Linked DNA regions of Homo sapiens. The protein of the gene in region 3 purifies or fractionates together with the protein of the main gene of each other region. This does not show direct contact. Each region holds a gene or a part of one and is shown on either strand. Other genes may lie near its edges.

Region 1 (7,034 bases), on a different chromosome or scaffold from region 3:
TGGGTGGATGACTTTTTTCTCTACTTCAGTAGTCTCAACAAGTTGGCATGATGTATTGTATAGAATAAATACACAATCAATTTTTACTGAATTACTGTGTTTTCCTTTGATTTTCACACTGGTTCCTTCCAGTCACATCACTTCATTTTTTCACTTTTCTTTTTTCTTTTTGAAATGGAGTCTCACTCTGTCGCCCAGGCTGGAGTGCAGTGGCACAATCTGGGCTCACTGCAACCTCCACCTCCTGGGTTCAGGCATGAGCCACCACAACTGGCCTCACTTCCCTTTTCTGACCAGGACCCCTAGCCTCCATCTGTACATTCATTGCATTTCCATTAGGGCTCAAGAGAGTGAAAACAATTTTAAATGTGCCAACTTTCTAAGAAGGGGTTAGGGAAACACTACACTCAGGAGATGTTGGGCCAGCTGTGGTGGTTCCCGCCTATAAACCCAGCACTTTGGGAGGCCAAGCTAAGAGGGTTGCTTGAGGCCAAGAGTTCAAGACCAGCCAGGGCAACACAGTGATGCTCTGTCTCTACAAAAAAAAATGTAAAAATGAGCCAGGCGTGGAGGCATACAACTGTAGTCCCAGCTATTTAGGAGGCTGAGGCAGAAGAATCACTTAAGCCCAGGAGGTTGAGGCCACAGTGAGCTATGATTGTGCCAATGAACTCCAGCCTGGGCAACAATGTGAGACCCTGTCTCAAAAAACAAAATTAAAGAAAGAAAATTTTAAATTAACTATGTGGTTCATACTATATTCCCATTGGATTATGCCAGGGTGGTAACGATAAAAAAGCAAGATTCATTTAACTCAGAAAGAAAATTAGGCTAAGATAATAAATCCAGCAGCCAACAAGTCTTAATAATAGGCACTTATCTGGTAAGATCACATGAGACAATATTTCTTGAATTTTTTTAATGTAAATCCCTCCAACAACAAAGAACGATCCCATCTCTGAACAAAAATTTGCAAGCTGAGGTTTTTCTTTTTTTCTCCTGTAGACAATACTGAAAAACAGTAAAAGCAAACACCAGAAAGAAGTCTACAGAACACATAAAACAATGTGGATGGTTTTGCCTTAATTACCTAACACTCTAAAAATAAAAAGGCTCGGTACAGACAGTGGTGAACAGAGCTGTTTTAAAGTATTTTACATCAACACTTGCTAAAATGTAAAAAGAAGTAATTTCAAAATATTGCTTTAAATCAGAGCACTGCCTACTTATGACAAATGTCATTCTGCTACTACTGAGACAGAACACAGAGAAATGCCATGGTCCAAGCTCACAGGTCCAGTTTCTGGAGAGTCTCAGTCTACTTTAATACAAAATCACAAGGAAAGCACTAGCAGTCACTACTAGAATAAACTTTGAAATGACCTCGATTCCAAGCCTCACTCCTCTCATGGATATGACTGACCTAAGTTATTTAGCTTTACTGAGCCTTTATTTTCTCATCTGTAAAATGGGTCAACAGTACCTAACCTCAAGAGAATGTTGTGAAGACTAAATAACTGATAAGGGGTGGTAAATGCTCAATAAATTTATTACAGCAAGCACTTCAAAGCCCCAAAATAATTTCAAAAACCTTTAAGAATGAAACATTAGGCAAATGCCAGGGCCACTCTCAGAAAACTACACGCTAGTTGTAGTAATTAGCTCCAGGCATGCCCTTCCCGCCCCCTGTTATTAAACAGCATGATGTGGCAGATCAAGCACTAAACTAGCAGGTAGCAAATCTGCATTCTAGACTCAATGGTGTCATTAACTCTGTGAGTGACCTTAGGCATTTACTTAGCATTTCTAAGGCTCCAGTTCCTTTATCTGAAAATGAAGAGGCTGTACAACTGCTAGGGTCGTATCCAGCGCTAACATTCTAAGAACCTCTTTATTCGGACACAAAAGCAATGCCACATTATCAACCTGATCAGACTTTGCATAGAGTAACTAAAATTCCATTATGTTTTTCAAACAACCCTGAAAGACAGTCTTATGAGCTACAACCTAACTACTTCAAAAACAATTTGAGGCCAGGCGCGGTGGCTCACACATGTAATCCCAGCACTTTGGGAGGCTGAAGTGGGCAGATCACTTGAGGTCAGGAGTGCGAGACCAGCCTGGCCAGCATGGCAAAGCCCCGTCTCTACTAAAAATACAAAAATTAGCTGGGGATGGTGGTGCACACGTGTAATCCCAGCTACCTGGGAGGCTGAGGCAGGAGAATCGCTTGAACCAGGAAGGCAGAGGTTGCAGTGAGCCAAGATCGTGCCAGTGCACTCCAGCCTGGGCGACATAGAGAGATTCATCTCAAAAACAAAAAAGAAACAAAAAACCATTTAAATAACATTTAAAATACACAAACCAAAACCATTTCAGATACCCTCAAAAAAGTACAAAAATAACAGAAACAGCCGGGTGCGGTGGCTCACACCTGTAATCCCAGCACTTTGGGAGGCCGAGGTGGGTGGCTCACTTGAGGTCAGTAGCCACCAAGACCATCCTGGCCAACATGGTGAAACCCTGTCTCTACTAAAAATACAAAAATTAGGCCGGGCGCGGTGGCTCACGCCTGTAATCCCAGCACTTTGGGAGGCCGAGGCGGGCGGATCACGAGGTCAGGAGATCGAGACCATCCCGGCTAAAACGGTGAAACCCCGTCTCTACTAAAAATACAAAAAATTAGCCGGGCGTAGTGGCGGGCGCCTGTAGTCCCAGCTACTTGGGAGACTGAGGCGGGAGAATGGCGTGAACCCGGGAGGCGGAGCTTGCAGTGAGCCGAGATCCCGCCACTGCACTCCAGCCTGGGCGACAGAGCGAGACTCCGTCTCAAAAAAAAAAAAAAAAAAAAAAAAAAAAAAAAATACAAAAATTAGCCAGGCATGGCGGTGCGCACCTGTCATCCCAGCTACTCAGGAGACTGAGGCAGGAGAATCGCTTGAACCCGGGAGGTGGAGGTTGCAGTGAGCCGAGATCACGCCATTGCACTGCAGCCGGGGCAACAAAGGGAGACTCCATGTCAAAAATAAAAAAATAACCGAAACATTTTTCTGCTACCAAAATTAACCACCTAAAGGCAATGGACAAGTAGTATGGTAACATACTGGAGTTCTACAGAAATATTCAACCAGGAAATTACCCAGTGACATTCTGCAGAATGCGCTTTTTTTTTTTCAAGTGAAGCGACATACAATTACCTAGTGGGAATGTGGTTTGGAAGTGAGTGTCACCACTGTTAGGTCAGGTGCTCGGGAAAGCCTTATTAAGTGTTCTTCTCTCTTTGAAAGTAGAATTATGATGGGAAACTGGTTCAACTTAGAGTACTGTAACAACTAGGTTTCCTTAGAACAAAGCCATTTACGAAGGAGCCATATAAATCTACAGTCTCGGCTCACTTTGTTAAACTCTACTGAAAACAAGGCAGAAACTTCTAAGCCTTGAAATGAATCAACAATCAACAGCTAAAAACTGTCAGTTTTCTTGATTGTTCTGAGGACCTCAGATCCTTCAACTAGTAGCCAAATTCTTGTCTCCCGAAGATATTTTAAAACCAAGGGTAGAATGATGAAATTCTAAACATGCCCCAATAGACACACTAGCCAGACTCATAGTAACTGAACTCACTGCTGTTTAATACGAAATAGACAAGTACTGTAAAAAGATAACCAGTGCTCTACCTTCAGCACTCTCGACAAACTTAAAAATACAAAACTTGGCCAGGCACAGTGGCTCTCGCCTGTAATCCCAGCATTTTGGGAGGCCGAGACGGGTGGATCACTTGAGGTCAAGAGTTCGAGACCAGCCTGGGCAACATGGTGAAACCTCATCTCTACTAAAAATACAAAAATTAGCTGGGCGTGGTGGCGGGCACCTGTAATCTCAGCTACTTGGGAAGCTGAGGCAGAACAATCGCTTGAACCTGGGGAGGCAGAGGTTACGGTGAGCCGAGTTAGGGCCACTGCACTCCAGCCTGTGACAGAGCGAAACTCCATCTCAAAAAACAAAAACAAACAAAAAAACTTAGCCAGGCGTCATGGTGGGTGCCTATAGTCCTAGCTACTCAGGAAGCTGAGGTGAAAGATCACTTGAGCCCAGGGATTTGAAGTTACGATGAGCTATAATCACACAATTATACTCCAGCTTGGGTGACAAAGTAAGATCCCGTCTCTAAAAAATAATAAGTAAAAAGTTTTTTAAAATACACACAACCTTGGTGATCAGGCTTTGGCTGCAACTCTGGCCCAGGAGGCCAGAAAAAAAAATACACACAAGGCATTCGCAAAGAACAGTGAGCAGATAATAGATAAATCTTTAGTTTTATGAGAGTGACAAGACTGAGAGGTTTTACGTAAGGGATTGCTGTTCTCGGCTTTGAAAGCCTTCTCTACACTCTCTGCAGGGCTCACTTACCACACTGTGACTTCCACTAGAGTACACTGGGCATCTGATCCCTTTCTAGATTCCTTCAGGACCACAATTTATTCATCTTGGTGTTATTTCAAGTGCCTAGCATAGCATCTTTCATTCAGTGGACTGGTAAATGTTTGTTAATGAGTCGCTAGTACATATATCTGAGCAAAACCAGAAATTCGCATTTCTGGAAAAAAATTCCATTCCAATACTGCTAACTCAACCCAGAAGGTTATCAAATCTCTTTTTCATTCCTTTCTCTTCAACCAGAAAGAAAATACTATCTGAACACTTTCAGACATTTCTTCCCCAGCAAACCAAAGCAAGCAAATCAAGGCTTAAACTTTGTCGTCTACATTACTTCCTTAACTTGTTCAAACTGAAATTGCTGTCTTTTCACGCTGTGCAACTTCAGAAAAGGTAAAAAATAAAGAACAGAAGAATGCAATAAGATATGTACTGACAGCACTACGTAATACCTGCTCCAAAGAGGGTTTTTACACCAGTCAAAAATTCTAACAGTTTAAACAACTGCTCAACTTGGCACAGCACAGCCCTAGATGATGCCTTCGCTTCTTCCCTAAATCCTCAGTCTCAAGCCATTCATACGTGTAAAACCATGAAACAAGAGACAAAAAGGTCAGCCATGGCAGGAGAAGTAACGAAAGGCAGTGTTTACTACTGTGATACTCCAGGGATACTGTGGGGCCTCTCCTCTACCCCATCTGCTGTCCCACTGAAGCCTAAAAACACCTTTATATGAGCACTGTTCTTGCAGGCACTTCAGTCTCAAAAACACATTCTCAAATACAGAATCTTACCTATTATCTACCTCAACAGATAGAATTTAACATATTAATAAAGTGTAAGGGCCTTTCTGGATTAAACAACCATTACTTTGATTTGGAATCCTCTCTACTCTGGTGGCCCTGAAGAGGTCACTTCTGAGATGTTCCAGCTTAAAACTGAGAATATTCTAAAAAGCATCTGCCAAGTGGTGATGGTTGCATAACCTTACAAATATATTAAAAGCCACTGAACTGTATGTACACTTTACTTTTCTTTTTGGACAGTGTCTCATTTGGTCACCCAGGCTGAGTGCAATGGTGCCATCATAGCTCACTGCAGCCTCCAGCTCCTGGGCTCAAGAGATCCTCCCACCTCAACCTCCCAAGTAGCTGGGACTACAGGTTTGTGCCACCACACCCAGCTATTTTTTTTTTTTTTTTTTTTTGAGACAGAGTGTCAATGTCGCCCAGGCTAGAGTGCAGTGGTGTGATCTCGGCTCACTGCAACCTCCGCCTCCCAGATTCAAGTGATTCTCCTGCCTCAGCCTCCCCAGTAGCTGGGACTACGGGCGCGCACCACCATGCCTGGCTAATTTTTATATTTTTAATAGAGACAGGTTTCGCCACGTTGGCCAGGCTGGTCTCGAACTCCTGACCTCAGGTGATCCGTCCACCTCGGCCTCCCAAAGTGCTGGGATTACAGGCATGAGCCACTGCACCCAGCTGTATTTTTTTTTTTTTTTTTTTTTTTTTTTTTGTGGAGACAGGGTCTCAGTCTCACTATGTTTTATGGAGGCCTCAGGCAATCCTCTCACCTCAGCCTCCCAGAGTGTTGGGTTTATAAGTGTGAGCCAATGCGCCCAGCTTGTACAGTTGAAAAGGGTGAATTTTACAGTGTGTAAGTTAAATGTCAATCATTTAAAAAAAAAAAAAAAAAAGGCCAGGCGCGGTCACACCTGTAATCCCGGCACTTTGGGAGGCCAAGGCGGGCAGATCACCTGAGGTCAAGAGTTCAAGACCAGCCTAGCCAACATGGTGAAACCCCATCCCTGCAAAAACACACACACACAAAATAGCTGGGCATGATGGCAGGTGCCTGTAATCCCAGCTACTCGGGAGGCTGAGGCAGGAGAATTGCTTGAACCTGGGAGGAGGAGGTTGTAGTCAGCCGAGATCGTGCCATTGCACTCCAGCCTGGGCAACAGAGCAAGACTCCGTCTCAAAAAAAAAAAAAAACAAAAAAAAAACCTCCTCTTCCAATAAATAAGGCATTCAGCAAATACGGAACACTACAAAACAGAATGTTTCTCTTTAAAATTCAAGTTCCACAATACAATCTGCTAAGTTTTGGAGACAGTGCCTCCTCCAAGTAAGTACTGAGGGCTGCTGGTTTTATTCCATGCTTGTTTCTTAATGGCAGTGAGTTCTGAGAAGCATTAAAGGTGGGATGATGCAAAGAACACCACATCATTACTTTAGAAGCTCTGGCTGTTCTAAAAAGTTCAAGTAACCCTAAAATTACTAAACCAGTTTCTTATCTAACAATAAAAAAAACTAGGTGCAAATTGCAACTTAAATACATCCTATCAGATAAAATGCTTGTTCTAATATACATTAAGCCTTGTCTTCTATATTTTTATTCACTTGGGGACCTCACTTTTTAAGGAGAATCTCTTGGCCAATTTACTTGGCTCTAGAGAACTGTGCTTAAATGAATTACACTTAATTACACTTAAATGGGTTCCACTTAATTATTTCTTAAGGAACCTATATTCTTTAGTTTTCAAAGAGATCCAAGGTCAATACTGAATCCCAAGGTCTGACTCTCCAGGCTCC
Region 2 (7,306 bases), on a different chromosome or scaffold from region 3:
ATTGATGGTGGAAGTGTAAAGTGGTACTATCTCTTTGGAAACACAGCTTACAGTTTCTTATTGTATTAGTCCATTCTCATGCTGCCACAGAGGACCGCTCCAGACTGGCTAATTTATAAAGGAAAAAAAGTTTAATTGACTCACAGTTCCGCAGGGCTGGGGAGGCCTCAGGAAACTTAAAATCATGGTGGAAGGGGAAGCAAACACATCCCTCTTCACATGACGTCAGGAAGGAGAAGTGCCAAGCAAGAGGGGGAAAAGGCCCTTATAAAACCATCAGATCTCATGAGAACTCACTCACCATGACAAGAACAGCAGCATGAGGGTAACTGCCCCTATGATCCAATTAACTCCCACCAGGTCCCTCTCATGACACGTGGGGATTGTGAACTACAATTCAAGATGAGATGAGATTTCGGCGGGGACACAGCCAAACCATACCACTTGTTTTTTTGTTTTTTTTTCTTTTGAGACAGAGTCTCGCTCTGTCGCCCAGGCTAGAGTGCACTGGTGCGATCTCAGCTCACTGCAACCTCCACCTCCCAGGTTCAAGCGATTCTCCTGACTCAGCCTCCTGAGTAGCTGGGATTACAGGCGTGTGCCACCACGCTCAGCTAATTTTTGTATTTTTAGTAGAGATGGGGTTTCACCATGTTGGTCAGGCTGGTCTCAAACTCCTGATCTCATGATCTGCCCGCCTCGGCCTCCCAAAGTGCTGGGATTACAGGTGTGAGCCACCGTGCCCGGCCCATACCACTTATAATGTTAAATGTATACTTACTATATGACCAGCAATTCCACTTCTAGATATTTACCCAAGAGAAATGAAAACGTGTACACAAAATGGCATGTACAAAAATGTCCACAGCAGCTTTATTCATAATAGCCAAAAACTGGAAACAATCCAAATGTCCAAAAATGACTACATGAACAAATCATGGTATAGCCCTATAATGAAAATAGTACTTAGCAATAAAATAGATCAATCTACTGGTACATGCAACCAAATAAATGAATCTCAAAAACATGTTGAGTCAAAGAAGCCAAATATATTAAAGGACATATACAATTCCATTTCTATGAAATTCTAAACTGGCAAAACTAATCTAGTGATAAAAATTGGATCAAGGGTTGCCAGGGATGAGAGACTGACCACAAAGGAGCACGAGGAAATTCTCTGGGGTGATGGAAATTTTCTATATCTTCATAGGTGGTGTTTACACTCAAAATGTATGCATGTTACTGCATGATTTTAAAAATGTGTTCCTGACATTTACAAATATAGTACTAAATAAACACTAAATACTAAACAAACATGTCATTACTATATTTAATAATATTTGTTGGTATTTCAAGTGGAATATTTATCTCATTTACATTTCTAGATGATTATTACTAGAAGAGGCTATTGGTGTGTTTATTTTTCTTATATTCACAGACTTTATCAAATTTCTTTATTCTGTTATTTTTTAAGCAAAGTCTTTTGGGTTTTCTAGGTATATAATCATATAATGACCAAAAGGAATATCTTAGGCTGGGCATGGTGGTTCATGCCTATAATCACAGCACTTTGAAAGGCTGAGGCAGAAGGATCACTTAAGGCCAGGAGTTCAAAACCAGCCTGGGCAACAAAGCGAGACCCCCGTCTCTACTAAAAATAATTTAAAAATTAGCTGGGCATTGTGGTGCGTGCCTGTAGTCCCAACTACCTGGGAAACTGAGGCAGGAGGATTGCTTGAACCCAGGTGTTTGAGGTTGCAGTGAGCTATGATTGCACCACTGCATTCCAGCTTTGGTGGCAGAACAAGATCCCGTCTCATTTTTTAAAAAGGAATATCTTCATCTTTTATTATCCAACATTTATACATGTTATTTTGTTTACTTCTCTTATTGCAAGTGCTAGTGTGCTAGTCTCTAAAAGAATATTAAGTAATAATAGTGACTACCAGATGCCCTCTCCTTTCTATATGTTAAAGGAAATATCTGAACATCTAAGTGTTTAAAATACTACTCGTTGGAATTTTTGTAAAGTCTTTACCAATTTGTAGTTTCTATTTCTACTTTATTTTGTTAGAAATGATTTTTAAATTTTTTCAAATAACTTTTTAGCATTTATTAATATAACATGTTTTTTCCCTTTTATATTGTTGATGCAGGCTAGGCACAGTGGCTCATGCCTGTAATCCCAGCACTTTGGGAGGCTGACACAGGAGGATAGCTTGAGCTCAGAAGTTGGAGACCAGCCTAGGCAACATAGTGAGACTCCTGTCTCTACAAAAAAATCAAAAAATTAGCCAGGTGCAGTGGTACATGCCTGTAGTCCTAGCTACTCAAGAGGTTGAGGCAGGAGGATAGCTCAAGCCCAGGAGATCAAGGATGCAGTGAGTTGTGATCTCACCACTGCACTCCAGCCTGGGTGACAGAGCAAGACGCTGTTTTAAAAAAAAAAAAAATAGTCAATGCAATGAAATATTATTGATGTCCTAATATTGCAAAAGTTTGCTTTCCTGGTACAAAACCTCTTAAATTATTCTTTTGATAAAGTACTACCAGGTTGGTGCAAAAGTAAACCCCAATTAATTTTGCACCAACCTACTAGATTCTCTTTTGGATATATATTCACAAGCTAACTTGAACTTTGGGGTTTTTCTGGTACTATCTTTATGAAGTTACAGTAAGGCTGGCTTCATGAAATGATTTAAGGAGTTTCTTCTTTTTCTCTCCCCTAAAATGGTAAAAATAGTTTAAGACTCCATCATTCCTTAAAGATTGCAAAGGACTTAATGTGAAACTCCCAAGTCTCCATGACATTTTTAATAGTAGATATTTAATGTCCAATTTTTCTATGGTAATTAGTCTCTTCATGACCCTACTTCTTGGGTCAATTTTCTTAGAAAGTCATTCATATCTCTCAGGTTTTCGAATGTGTTGCTTTTGAGTTTTAGTTGGTAATTAATATTTTAATCTCCTTCTGCATCAGTGGTTATCTCATTTCTCATTCTTGTATAATTTTGTTCTCTTTAAAAATCTGGGTCATGACAGGATTATCTATCTTATTGGTGTTTTCAAATAATACAAAAAAGAATTGGACTTACTTATTCAAGTTTTGAGGTTTTCTATTTTATTGTTATCTTTATTGCTTACTACCATTTTGTTCCTAATAAAGATATATACATATATCTTAATATATTTACATTAATAAAATATACATATTTGTAGTTTATATATTTTTTATTTGTGGGATGCCAAATTCTCTCTGGAGATTTAAAATTGTAACATGAACCAACCACCCACTCCCACACACTTATGGTTCTTACTGTGCTTATTTAAAAATTTTTTTCATAGCATTTATTTATGATCTTCTAACAAACCTTATGCTACTTATATATTGCTTATTGTTTATCCTGTCAATTTTACATGACTATAAAGTCGACAAGGGTTGGGAACTTCCGTCTGTTCATTGATGTATCCCAAAGCCTGGAATGGTACCTGACACAAGGTAGGTGTTCAATAAATTGTTAGATAAATAAATCATAATCACATGACTCATTTTACCCAGGCAAAGGGCAAAACAGGAATACTACAGGTATTCATTCATTCACCAAAATAGAGTTCAGCATTTACTATGTGTCAGAACTGTCCTGGTGTTGACACAAGTCCCCACCCTTACCAAACCAACTGTTTACTTTAGGGCATATGAACAGGAATGGGAGGCAGAAGGATATCGTGAATCAATGAAAAAATATATTGGCTTTACAAATGTACTCTATATTTCTTACTAATCTCAAATTGGCTACAGTACCTCGCTTTTCGATCCTATTTTCCTTTACTCCACAATCCTAACAGTTTAAAATGTCGGCTTGTCAAATCCTTTAAATGCAGAGGAGATTCCAAAAGAGACAAAGTATTTGGGTGGTAATCGCCCATCGACTTTACTACCTTTAATAGTTTACCAAAGCGCGCGAATGTAAAACCCAGACCATGGTAAGACTACGGTGGAAATGGAAGGTGTCTCACTGAGGGTCCCGGTTGCCTTCTGCAAAGGTGAAGGTCGTGCCGGCCACGCGAGGAAATCTGCCTCGCTCACAACTCACAGGCACACATCAACACTGCCAACCGAGGGAGCCCAAAATCACCGCAAGCGAAAGGCTCCGGCGGCGGCCACGGGCCACAGCCCGCCTCCGCGCACACGCAGCCCCTCCCGAGCCTCCACTCGCCGTCTTCGCCCCGCCTTCGGACCGGAAGGAGTTGTTGGCGCTTCCGGTGGCCTGCGACCCCGTAATTGCCTCGGTGATGTCGTGGGTTCAAGCAGCCTCCTTGATCCAGGGCCCTGGAGACAAAGGGGACGTGTTTGACGAAGAAGCAGACGAGTCGCTCCTGGCGCAGCGGGAATGGCAGAGTAACATGCAAAGACGAGTCAAAGTAAACGTGGTGTGGACGGCGCGGGGTGCTGGGTTGTGGGAAGAGGCGCGGAGTTGTGAAGAAGCTGGGTCCAGAGTGGCCCCAGCCTGGCCCGGCGCTGCTCTCTTTATCCCTAGGGACCCGGTCCGACCCGCGTCTTGCTAGGATTTCTCGATGGTTACTTGAAAGCGTGTAAAACAACAAGACGCATTCTTTGAGCGCCTACGGGATGCGTTAGAAACTGAGGACCGACCAAAATTAACTATGTGTAGACTTTGAACAGTTTGCAGTTTGTTGAGGATCACAGGGAAAGGAGCTGGAGAGAAACATACACTATACTTATTATGGCTGTCAAAGGACGTGTACGCAGTTTATATGGGTGGCTTGAATGGGTAGGGAGCCTAAAGTTAAGGAGTAGTGTTAATCAAGACATATTGAAAAGATGAACTAAAGCATGCTGTCAGAGGACAATAAGGGAAAGCTAATGTGGAATACTGGTGTCTAGGTAAGGGAATATTAAAGTTGGTTTCTTTTTTATTTGTTAGATGTAACTTTTTCATCTCTAATTTGTCTCACTATTCATTGAAACTAAGCTTAATTTCTGTGTGCAGCCTACAGTATTTCTGGGTGAGGACCAAATAGTGAGGTCCACATCCACTTAATATATTTGCCAACCATTAAATTGCCGCTAAAGCTGCAGTTGGGAATCTGCCCTGTTTAATATTTCAGTAGAGTGGTATTTGCTTAGCCCAAAAACCATGTTGTCAATTACAAAAATGCTTTATGTGAGACTGGGGCCACACTAATAAGTATTGAGCATCTTTTAAATGCTGTGGCACCGTGAGAGATGCAGAACGAAATCACTACCCACAGAGCTTTTGCAGGTTAGTTGAATTTAGGTATTATGCAAAATTTCTGAAACCAGACTTCTCATCATCCTTTTTTTTTTAAACAATTTCCTCTCTCTGCTTTGCCCTGTCTCCTCACCCACCCACACCATTCCAATCAGTTGGCAAGAGCCCAGATGTGTAATTTTCCATATATCCTTTTTGTGAAGACATTGCTAATGCTGGGTTTTGTTTTTTGTTTTTTGGTTTTTTTAATCTTTTGAAGTGATTAGAAAAGTTTATTTTGTGCTTAGGATATTTTTCTAAGGCATCACAGGTTACACATCCAAACTCTTCAATGGTATAATATTTTATATTCTAAAGGAGAGACCTTTAAAGAAAACTTGTACATTATGCTACTATAAGTCTAGTGGATTCTCCTATCCGCAGAGCCTAGAAAGAAGGGGACATTACAGAAATTGTCTACTACATAATGGTCAGTTGATTCATTGTATTTATGGTTTTCCCCCTTCTTGTAAGGTGAAAACTATGTATGCCCTTTAAGGAGTATGCTCTTTAAGGAGTAAAAATACACTAAGTGTACCATCCTGTTGATTTCTACCTGTAAGATACCACACAATATTAGCAGTTAGGAAAGAACAGGAAAATATGAAGTTTGTATCTTAAAATATAAAAATGTGTGGCGAAACCCCATCTCTACTAAAAATACAAAAATTAGCCGGGTATAGTGGCGTGCACCTATAGTCCCAGCTACTTGGGAGGCTGAGGCAGAAGAATCACTTGAATCCGGGAGGCAGAGGTTGCAGTGAGCTGAGGTCATGCCACTGCACTCCAGCCTGGGTGACAGAGCGCGACTCCATCTCAAAAAATAATGATAATAATAAATATATATATATATAGTTAATGATTTTGAAACATCAAGCATTACAGACTGTAAAATTAATTAAGAACTTTCTGTATATGATGCCAAAGATACATTTAAAACATATACAAGAAGATGCTTTTTCCTGAGTAGAATGCAAACTTTGTTTTATATTAACCTTCTGTGAATTTTCAAAATGTAAAATACCAGGACTTTTCCACATCAGACAAAAATCAGGAATGTTCACCTTCACATCCAAAAAGAAAAATTTTAAAAGACAATTTCAAGTAGTTCAGCAAGAATGATTTAAAATCTGAAATGAATGGCCAAAATTTTAAATTATCAACAGACAGTTCAATTTGATGGATCTCTCAGTAAACTTCAGTTTGAAACAACAACAAAAAATGCTGTTTACTAAATCATAAAAGATAATTCCAGGATATTATCCAATTTGAAAAATAAAAAATGTAACCCGTAATAAATAAGAAAAATACAAGAGAAAATCAACCTTTATTGGAATCGAGAGAATACCATGGACTTTAAAACTTCCTAAATCAGTAGCTTATCCTATATTACCATGTGTAGAAAACTGCAACTAATTAATGTAAGGTAGTTTTTATTAGTTGCATAACTTAAAAATATGAGGAAATTTTGGAATATATCTCTAAAACCACGGAATTGTCACTGAAATATATATTTCTTGAGACAGTGGGCAAAGTTCCCATTTATGGGAAATACTTTCCTTTTTTCACACACATGAAACTGAGAAAAATTATATCAAATGAGAAATATTTTTCTCTAAAATAATCTTAAGTACCCCAATAATGCAATACTGGGGAAATGTAAATTTTCAAAACTCAGATTTGAAACAGGTTATTATTAAACAAATATACATAAATCTTATTGTTTGGCAAGATTTTTCAAAAATTAGAGAACTAGTTAAACCACCATACTGTCCTTAAATCATATTTCAAACTTACATACCTAGTGCTTTTATGTTCTGAATGTAGAGTCTTCAATTTAATGACAATCTAGACTGAATGCTGTAATATACAAGCAAGTCACAGTTCACTTCAAACCAAAAGAAATAATCAGTCTTCTGTTTTTATCAAAATCATGATATTAAGATAACTATACAATTTATCTGTGACCAGTGATGGACCCAGAGAGTGTTGTGTTATGGCATTCTGTGGAA
Region 3 (7,118 bases):
AAAGACACTAGACCCAATAAGCTACATACAGTATTTATATCGGCATTCTGGGAAAGGCGAAACCAAAGGGACCCAAAACTGAGCTGTCAGGGGCTTGGAAAGGCCCAGAAGACTGACCATAAAGAGACATGAGGGAACTTTGTGGGATGATGGCAATGTTATATATTCGATTATAATGCTGCTTATATGACTGTACATGTCTGTAAAATTCACAGAACTGTACACCTAAAAAGGGTAAGTTTTATAGTATGTAAATTATACCTCAAGAAAGTGCTCATAGAAAGACAGAGAAGGGAATCTTGAGGGGAAACAGAAGAGGCTTGGTTGAGAGGATGGATACAGGAGTCATAATGTGCAAATAATAAAAGTTTCTGAAAGAAAGATGACTACTAAACTAATAACATTATAAAGTCCCTCAAGCTAAAGAAATTTCTCCAAGCTTGAGTCTGCAGGTGAAAACTGCCTATAAAATTATGGGTTACAAGGGTGAGAAAAGATATCTGGCAAATGCCATGAACTCAAGAATAAAGAGAAAAACCTTAGATGCTTCCAGAAAAAAACAAGTTACTTAGGAAAAAAAAAAAAGAGAGGTAGGCATAGGCCTTTATATCCACAACATGGCAAAAGAAGATAGTGAAAGAGCATTCATAAATTTTTGAGAGAAAAGGACTGCCACCCAAGAATTCTATCCCAACAAAGAGTAAAAGGAAAGTATTTTGGCGTATGTTATCACTCATTTATCCAATTGAGAGAAACGGCCAAAAAAAATAAATGAATAACAACTGAATCATAGTAGAGATAGAGGAGGAAAAGAGAAGACCTTATGACATATGTAATTAAATCTAACTAGGGAATAGTAAAGAAATTGGACAGAGATATATGATAAAAAAAAATTCAGTGCATTAGAATTAAAATAAAGCATCTAAACAAAAGGAATATTAAAATCAGACCAGTGTACAGTAGTATCTTTATCTGCAGTTTCATCTCCGCAGTTTCAGTTACCCTTGGTCAATCATGGTTCAAAATATTAAAAGGGAAATTCCAGAAACAAACAATTGGTAAGTTTTAAACTGTGTACTGTCTGAGTAGTGTGAAGAAATTTCTCACCATCCTGCTCCATCCCACCCAAGACATAAATCATCACTTTGTCCAGCACATCCACCACTTTGTCCAGCACATCCACCACTTTGTCCAGCATATCCACACTGTGTATACTACCTGACCGTTAGCCATCAACATCATCTGCTCCTGATATCCAATCATCAACATCATCGTGGCTTGATGATCCAGAATCACCAGAAGCAGATGCTCCTCCTTCTGAAGTATTGTCAGAAGGTTAATAGTAGCCTAACACTACATCACAACACCTACATTCTTCACCTCACTCGCTCTCATCACATAGACATTTTATCTCTCACATCATCGCAGGAGGAAGGGTACAATATAATATTTTGAGAGCGAGAGAGACCACTTTCACAAAACTTTTATTACTTTATTACTTCTATTGTTATAATTGTTCTATTTTATTATTAATTATTGTTAATCTCTTACTGTGCCTAATTTATAAATTACACTTTATCACAGGTATTTATGTATAGGAAAAAACATAGTATTAATATAGAAAGGGTTCAGTACTATCCATGGTTTTAGGCATCCACTGGGAGTCCTGGAATGTATCCCCTGGGATAAGGGGAGATGCCTGTACAAGGAAACTGCAAGTGACTATTTCCAACAGCTTTTTTGTTTGTTAGTTTTTACCTGGTTTGCAAGATGAGAGTGACCAAACAGCTTGTGACCCAATTTCCCGTACTGTTCCAGTCCTTTCCAACTGCTTGGGGTCAGCACCAGGAGGTGTCTTGTTTGGTGTAGTCATTTTTAAAATATTCTATGTAGAAAACAAGAATGCACACATTGTATCAGGAACTGGGCATCTTTCTACAAAAGTTTTTTACCAAGAAAAATTTAATGGAACTCATATACCCTGACATTAATCATTTATTCTGAAGAATGCAGTTAATATAATTAAATCACTGTAATTTAAATCTTAGGGGCTGGGCATGGTGGCTCACACCTGTAATCCCAACACTTTGGGAGGCTGAGACAGGAGGATCATGTGAGCCCAGGAGTTCAAGACCAGCCTGGACAACATGGCAAGACCCCATCTCTATTTTTAAATAAATAAAAATCTTAGGAATTCAGGTTTTGTTTCATATGACCAGATATGCAAAGCAGTGAGCTATAGTAGTCAAAAGAGCACAGAATCAAAGTTTTGGCTTCAGTATCTCCTTTAATCAGCCTAGACTTTGAGTAGGTCTGGGCTTTATTTCCTCTCCTGTTAAAGAGGTTCACTTGATGATTTTTACTTCTACAATGCTATGCAGTTCTATAATTCTGTGCCTGAAAATTCAAATGACTTTTAGCCCTAGAAAAGTCAGACTGAAATACTTTTATTCTAGGAATATATAAATATTGATCCTCATTTTATTTACTTAATTCCTTTTTTTTTAGAGACAGGATCTAGCTATGTTACCCAGGCTGGTCTTGAACACCTTGCTTCAAGCGATCCTCCCACCTCAGCCTCCCAAGTAGCTGGGATTACAGGTGTGATCCCATCACCCCACTAAGATCCTCATTTTAAATATTCATTGAGTGATGCAGAGAACAGTCATACCTGCCCTCTAGCTGTCAAAAGTTTTATTTAAGACCCAGCCCGGTGGCTCACACCTGTAATCCCAGCAGTTTGGGAGGCCAAGGCAGGTGGATTGCTTGAGCCCAGGAGTTCGAGACCAGCCTGGAATATGGTGAAACCCTGTCTCTAAAAAAATTCCAAAAAATCAGCCTGGTGTGGCGGCACACACCTGTAGTCCCAGGGGGGCTGAGACAGGAGGATCACCTGAACTGGGAGGCGGAGGTTGCAGTGAGCCGAGATCGTGCTACTGCACTCCAGCCTGCGTAACAGAGCAAGACACTGTCCCAAAAAGCACAAAAATAAGAAAAAAATGTTAAAAGTTCACTTACATATGCTCTTACCATAGAAGATAAGGTCAGGAAAATGGCTTCAAGATTTTGAAGTGAATAACTGGCCCATTCTAAAAAGGTTGACCTCATCTTTCACATCTTTTGTTAATTTTACTAAGTCTATTCATATGTGAAAAAACACTTCAATACTGGATCGTGAACAATATGTAAAACTGCTTTGGTAGCGCAGTTACTGCTACTGAACATTGTTATATATGCTATTCAAAATAGGTGCAATAGTTCTGCATACCGTTTCCTTGACACCTCCCATTGTATCCGAAGTTGTTCTTTAATCGGCACACAAGCACTTGATACTTACTAAATAACGGCAGACACAACGGACTGTAAACTTTGGCAAGGCCTGAGGCTTAAACGCTCAATAAGTAATTTACTGAATGAATAAACAGATGAATAGGTTCAGTTATGAACTAGTTGTCACTTGCCTGCAAGTTAGGTGAGATCTAGGGCGAGACTATTCAACCTGCAACCATCATTACTAACTGAATGTCCTGTTACCTAAAAAAAGATAGAAATAAAGCCCATCTTTAGGGCAGAATTCAACTGCCGGACTTGGGACTGGACGCCACCAAGTGGATAAAATATGGAGCTCGGAAAAGATTGGATTCCCGGCCCTGAACTGACCACACAGTTGAGAGGAAGTTGAGGCCTAGAAGAGCGCGCAACAGTAAGCCGTGTCGGCACCAGACTCTGTTGGTCCTACTGACACCTCCAGCGTTAGAATGACTAAGGCTCCACTCCTGACCCACCGGCCTTGAGGAAAGCGCAAACGTAAAAAAAGATTGAAACCGGAGAGGCGAATGCATCTGTTTACGCTAGGACCACGCTCGACGTCGGAGAAAAGCCCACACACTCACAGTTTCCAGACCTGGCTGCTTGCCGAAACTCAGATTCTCGGCACCTCCAGCAGCTGGCTTCGCCAACGGCGTTGAACAAGGGTCGCAGCTCAATGACGTCATATCTCCCTACCTACCTCCAGGGTTCCGCCTCACGCTCTATGTCGCGCGCGCGCACTACGTCCTATGGCTTGCGCGTGCGGCGGCTGGGCACCGCCATTTTGGCCGGTGGCCGTGAGAACACGCTGTGTGGCTGAAAAGTGAAGGCAAGAGCTGATTTGGCCTCTGTGCTCCCCTCCGCAAGGGGATCGTTTTCTCCAGGTACGTGAATAGCCCGGAGAGGTTTGGCCGTTAGCTGCCATCTGCCAGGTTGGAAAGAATGTAGGGACGTTCTCCGAGAGCCTTTGGTTAGGCCTTAGGTGGCGGAGACAGCAGCAGCGCGTGGCAGCGGTTCCTGCGGGACAGCTGGAACTGATGGAGCGCGGGCGACGCCGAGAGCTTGGGGGCGCCTCGGTCTTCCCCTCCAGCCGACCCGGCTGTCGCCGCTGTTGCCTGCCACACCCGCGAGGGACTTCGAGAATGGACCTAGATGCCGTAGTCTCCACTCCCCCTTTACCCCACTCCCGCCCTGAAGCTAAACCTGCTGGAGAGGAAGGCACCTTTAGAACTTACAGCACTCTCTAGTACCCCCACACTCCTCCAGCACCCAAAATGGATATATTGTCACATGTGCATATTTGGTTGTGGGAAGTCGTGGCTTCCACGTTTTGTTGAGTGGAATGAGTCATGGCATCTTGCCGCCATGAAGTCGAATACTCGCTGTCCACTCCCAGGCTTTATAGAAATGATGCCCACATGTCACTCTGCTTTTCTCAGAACAGCGTGTACGCAGCTATGACTGGGGTTGTCCCAAGTAGTTTCCCAGTAGAAATCCTATAGTTTTTTTGGTACGCTTTTGTAGCACTAGGCACTTTCTCCCCTTACCCGTTTTTCCTTTTATTGTATCTAATACTCATTGAGATCAAGGTTGATGTCTTTACTCAGAATACCTTTATTATCTCTTCAGGGCTTCGTACATTGTAGGCATTTAATACGTATTGTGAATGAATGACAGCCAAAGCCGAATTCCCACCTCCCATTAACTACATAAGCTTATTTTCTCTTTTTTGATGGTAAAAATCTATAAGAGGAAGAACTGTCCAAATAACATGTTTTATTTTTTTACTCTTTCCCAACAGGACTGCTAACTAGTCATTTATGATAGTGGCATTTATGTTGCAGTAGTTTGTCCCATATTCTGAGAATATTCATTGTATACCAGCCACCTGACACTAATACTTTGTTAGTGTAACCAAAGGCTCAGAACCTGTATTTGAACCAAAAGCTGTTTGGGGTTTGTGAGCTTTTTGAGAACTTAGTTCTCCCCTATTTTAAAAAAGGGAGTTTTTTTGTTTGTTTGTTTGTTGGAAGAGCATCTAACAATTGGGAGAGAGGGGGAGAAAACAATATTAAGTTAGAGTTCTTCTAAATGTCTTAAACTTAAAACTCTTTGAAATCAGAGCCGTGTACCACTCCTAACTTCTACGTGTTTTGTAAGACTAATAAACTACAATAAGCATGGGTTAGACTATTTCATGTGATACTAAACATCATTAGTTAACAGCAGTCTTTGAAATGCTTTTACACAGCGTTACAATTATTTTGGCTTTAGACTGTAAATGCTTCTAAGTATTCCTCACTTCCTTTTTTCCTCTCAGCTGTAAGAATGACACTGAGGGTCATTGTTCTAGTGTCAATTTTGAACACTTTTGTCTTCGAATCTGAAATATCCGCAAATCCTTCTTTGTTTGCAGGAGCCTGTTAACTATAATCTTCCTCTCCAAGCTTTACTGTGCCTAGGTTTTCTATTGAAAAACAAGTAGGGAATCCCCTTGCCCCAATTATTGAAACTGATACAGAAATTGAATTAAAAGTGTTCACACAGTTAATTAACAGTTCTACAAAGAATCCATGTTCATTTTTCTTAAATGCATTACAATTTATCACTATTTTTATATAAATCAGTTTATTAACCACTTCTGGTATGTTTTTATTCTACTGTAAAAATCAAGCCAGGGTAGTGACATGCACCTATAGTCCCAGCTATTCGGGAGGCTAAAGCAAGAGGATCCCTTGAGCCCAGGAGTCCCAGTCTGTAGTGTCCTGTGATCACTGCCCTCAGCCAGGACACCATAGCAAGATCCCTGTGTCTTTTTAAAAAATTGTCTTTTACAGTCTTTTGGTTTTTAAAATAGTTTGAAAAATTAAATATTTTAGTAGTTTAACAGAAATAAAGTTTAAGCAATTTCGTGGTGATTTATCCCCTGGAGGGGAATTCATTATGCTCTTTCACTGAGTAATTGTAGAAAGGCATTCAGTATTTAAATTAGAATGCATGGTGTCCAGTTTTAATAGCTTGCTGAAGAATCTTCATTTCCTAGGAAGTTGTCATTTCCCGAATAATAGCTTTTTTGTGACAATTCAAGCCATCTAATTTCTTCCTCTTCTAATCTTTACAAGACCTGGACCAGTTTTTAGAGGAATAGAGTCAACCTGTTTATTGGAATAACCCTGTACTTATTACATGAACATTTAGTCTCCTTTTGAATGATTTTTTTTTTCAGTATGTAGTTTAGTGGACAACTGTCACTATAAAATATTGGTAACTTGCAAGATTTCTAAAGTTGTTATAACCTACAGGAAAATTATTTACTATATTTAAATTCATATTCTCATTCATTTAGCAGAAATGCTTGATCTCCTGTGTGCTAGGCACAGGTTCAGCCACTGGAATGAACAAAAATTCCTACCCTCATGATGGATGGAGTACATTCTACTTGGGGAGGGGAAAAATGTGTATGTGTTTGTAGAGAGACAATATACATACACACACCCACGATAGATGTGTGCATATACACCAGATATATATAAAAAAAATATATATATGGAATATATAGTATGTCATATAGTTGAGCTAGGGAGAAAAATAAAGCAAGAAAGAAGGATGAAGAGGCAGTTGGGTGTATTTTTCGGTAGTGTATATTGTGGTAGTGTAGTTACAAAAGGCTCACTGAGAAATAGTAAAGATTGAAAGGAGTAAGCCATGTAACTCTCTAGGGGGAATAGCATTACAGGCAGAAAGTGCCAAGATCTTGAAGCAAGAACATGCCTGGCATGTGCTAGGAACAACAAAGAGCCAATGTAGCT

What was found. Proteins that work in one complex are often made in the same cells at the same time.
Region 1: the proteins of ABCE1 (region 3) and GSPT1 purify together in Homo sapiens (affinity purification with mass spectrometry; 2 studies listed by BioGRID and IntAct, with this or other methods). This does not show direct contact.
Region 2: the proteins of ABCE1 (region 3) and YAE1 purify together in Homo sapiens (affinity purification with mass spectrometry; 2 studies listed by BioGRID and IntAct, with this or other methods). This does not show direct contact.

What each region holds. Positions count from the first base shown.
Region 1 is NC_000016.10:11,905,929-11,912,962, forward strand, and holds part of GSPT1 (eukaryotic peptide chain release factor GTP-binding subunit ERF3A), read right to left. Parts: intron 1-7,034. UniProt on the Homo sapiens protein: GTPase component of the eRF1-eRF3-GTP ternary complex, a ternary complex that mediates translation termination in response to the termination codons UAA, UAG and UGA.
Region 2 is NC_000007.14:39,562,126-39,569,431, forward strand, and holds the start of YAE1 (protein YAE1 homolog), read left to right. Parts: upstream 1-4,278; 5' UTR 4,279-4,293; coding exon 4,294-4,422; intron 4,423-7,306. UniProt on the Homo sapiens protein: The complex LTO1:YAE1 functions as a target specific adapter that probably recruits apo-ABCE1 to the cytosolic iron-sulfur protein assembly (CIA) complex machinery. May be required for biogenesis of the large ribosomal subunit and initiation of translation.
Region 3 is NC_000004.12:145,094,227-145,101,344, forward strand, and holds the start of ABCE1 (ATP-binding cassette sub-family E member 1), read left to right. Parts: upstream 1-4,084; 5' UTR 4,085-4,193; exon of another isoform or gene 4,194-4,345; intron 4,346-7,118. Other genes in the region: ANAPC10 (anaphase-promoting complex subunit 10), read right to left, coding at 1,759-1,885, 3,019-3,108. UniProt on the Homo sapiens protein: Nucleoside-triphosphatase (NTPase) involved in ribosome recycling by mediating ribosome disassembly. Able to hydrolyze ATP, GTP, UTP and CTP. Splits ribosomes into free 60S subunits and tRNA- and mRNA-bound 40S subunits.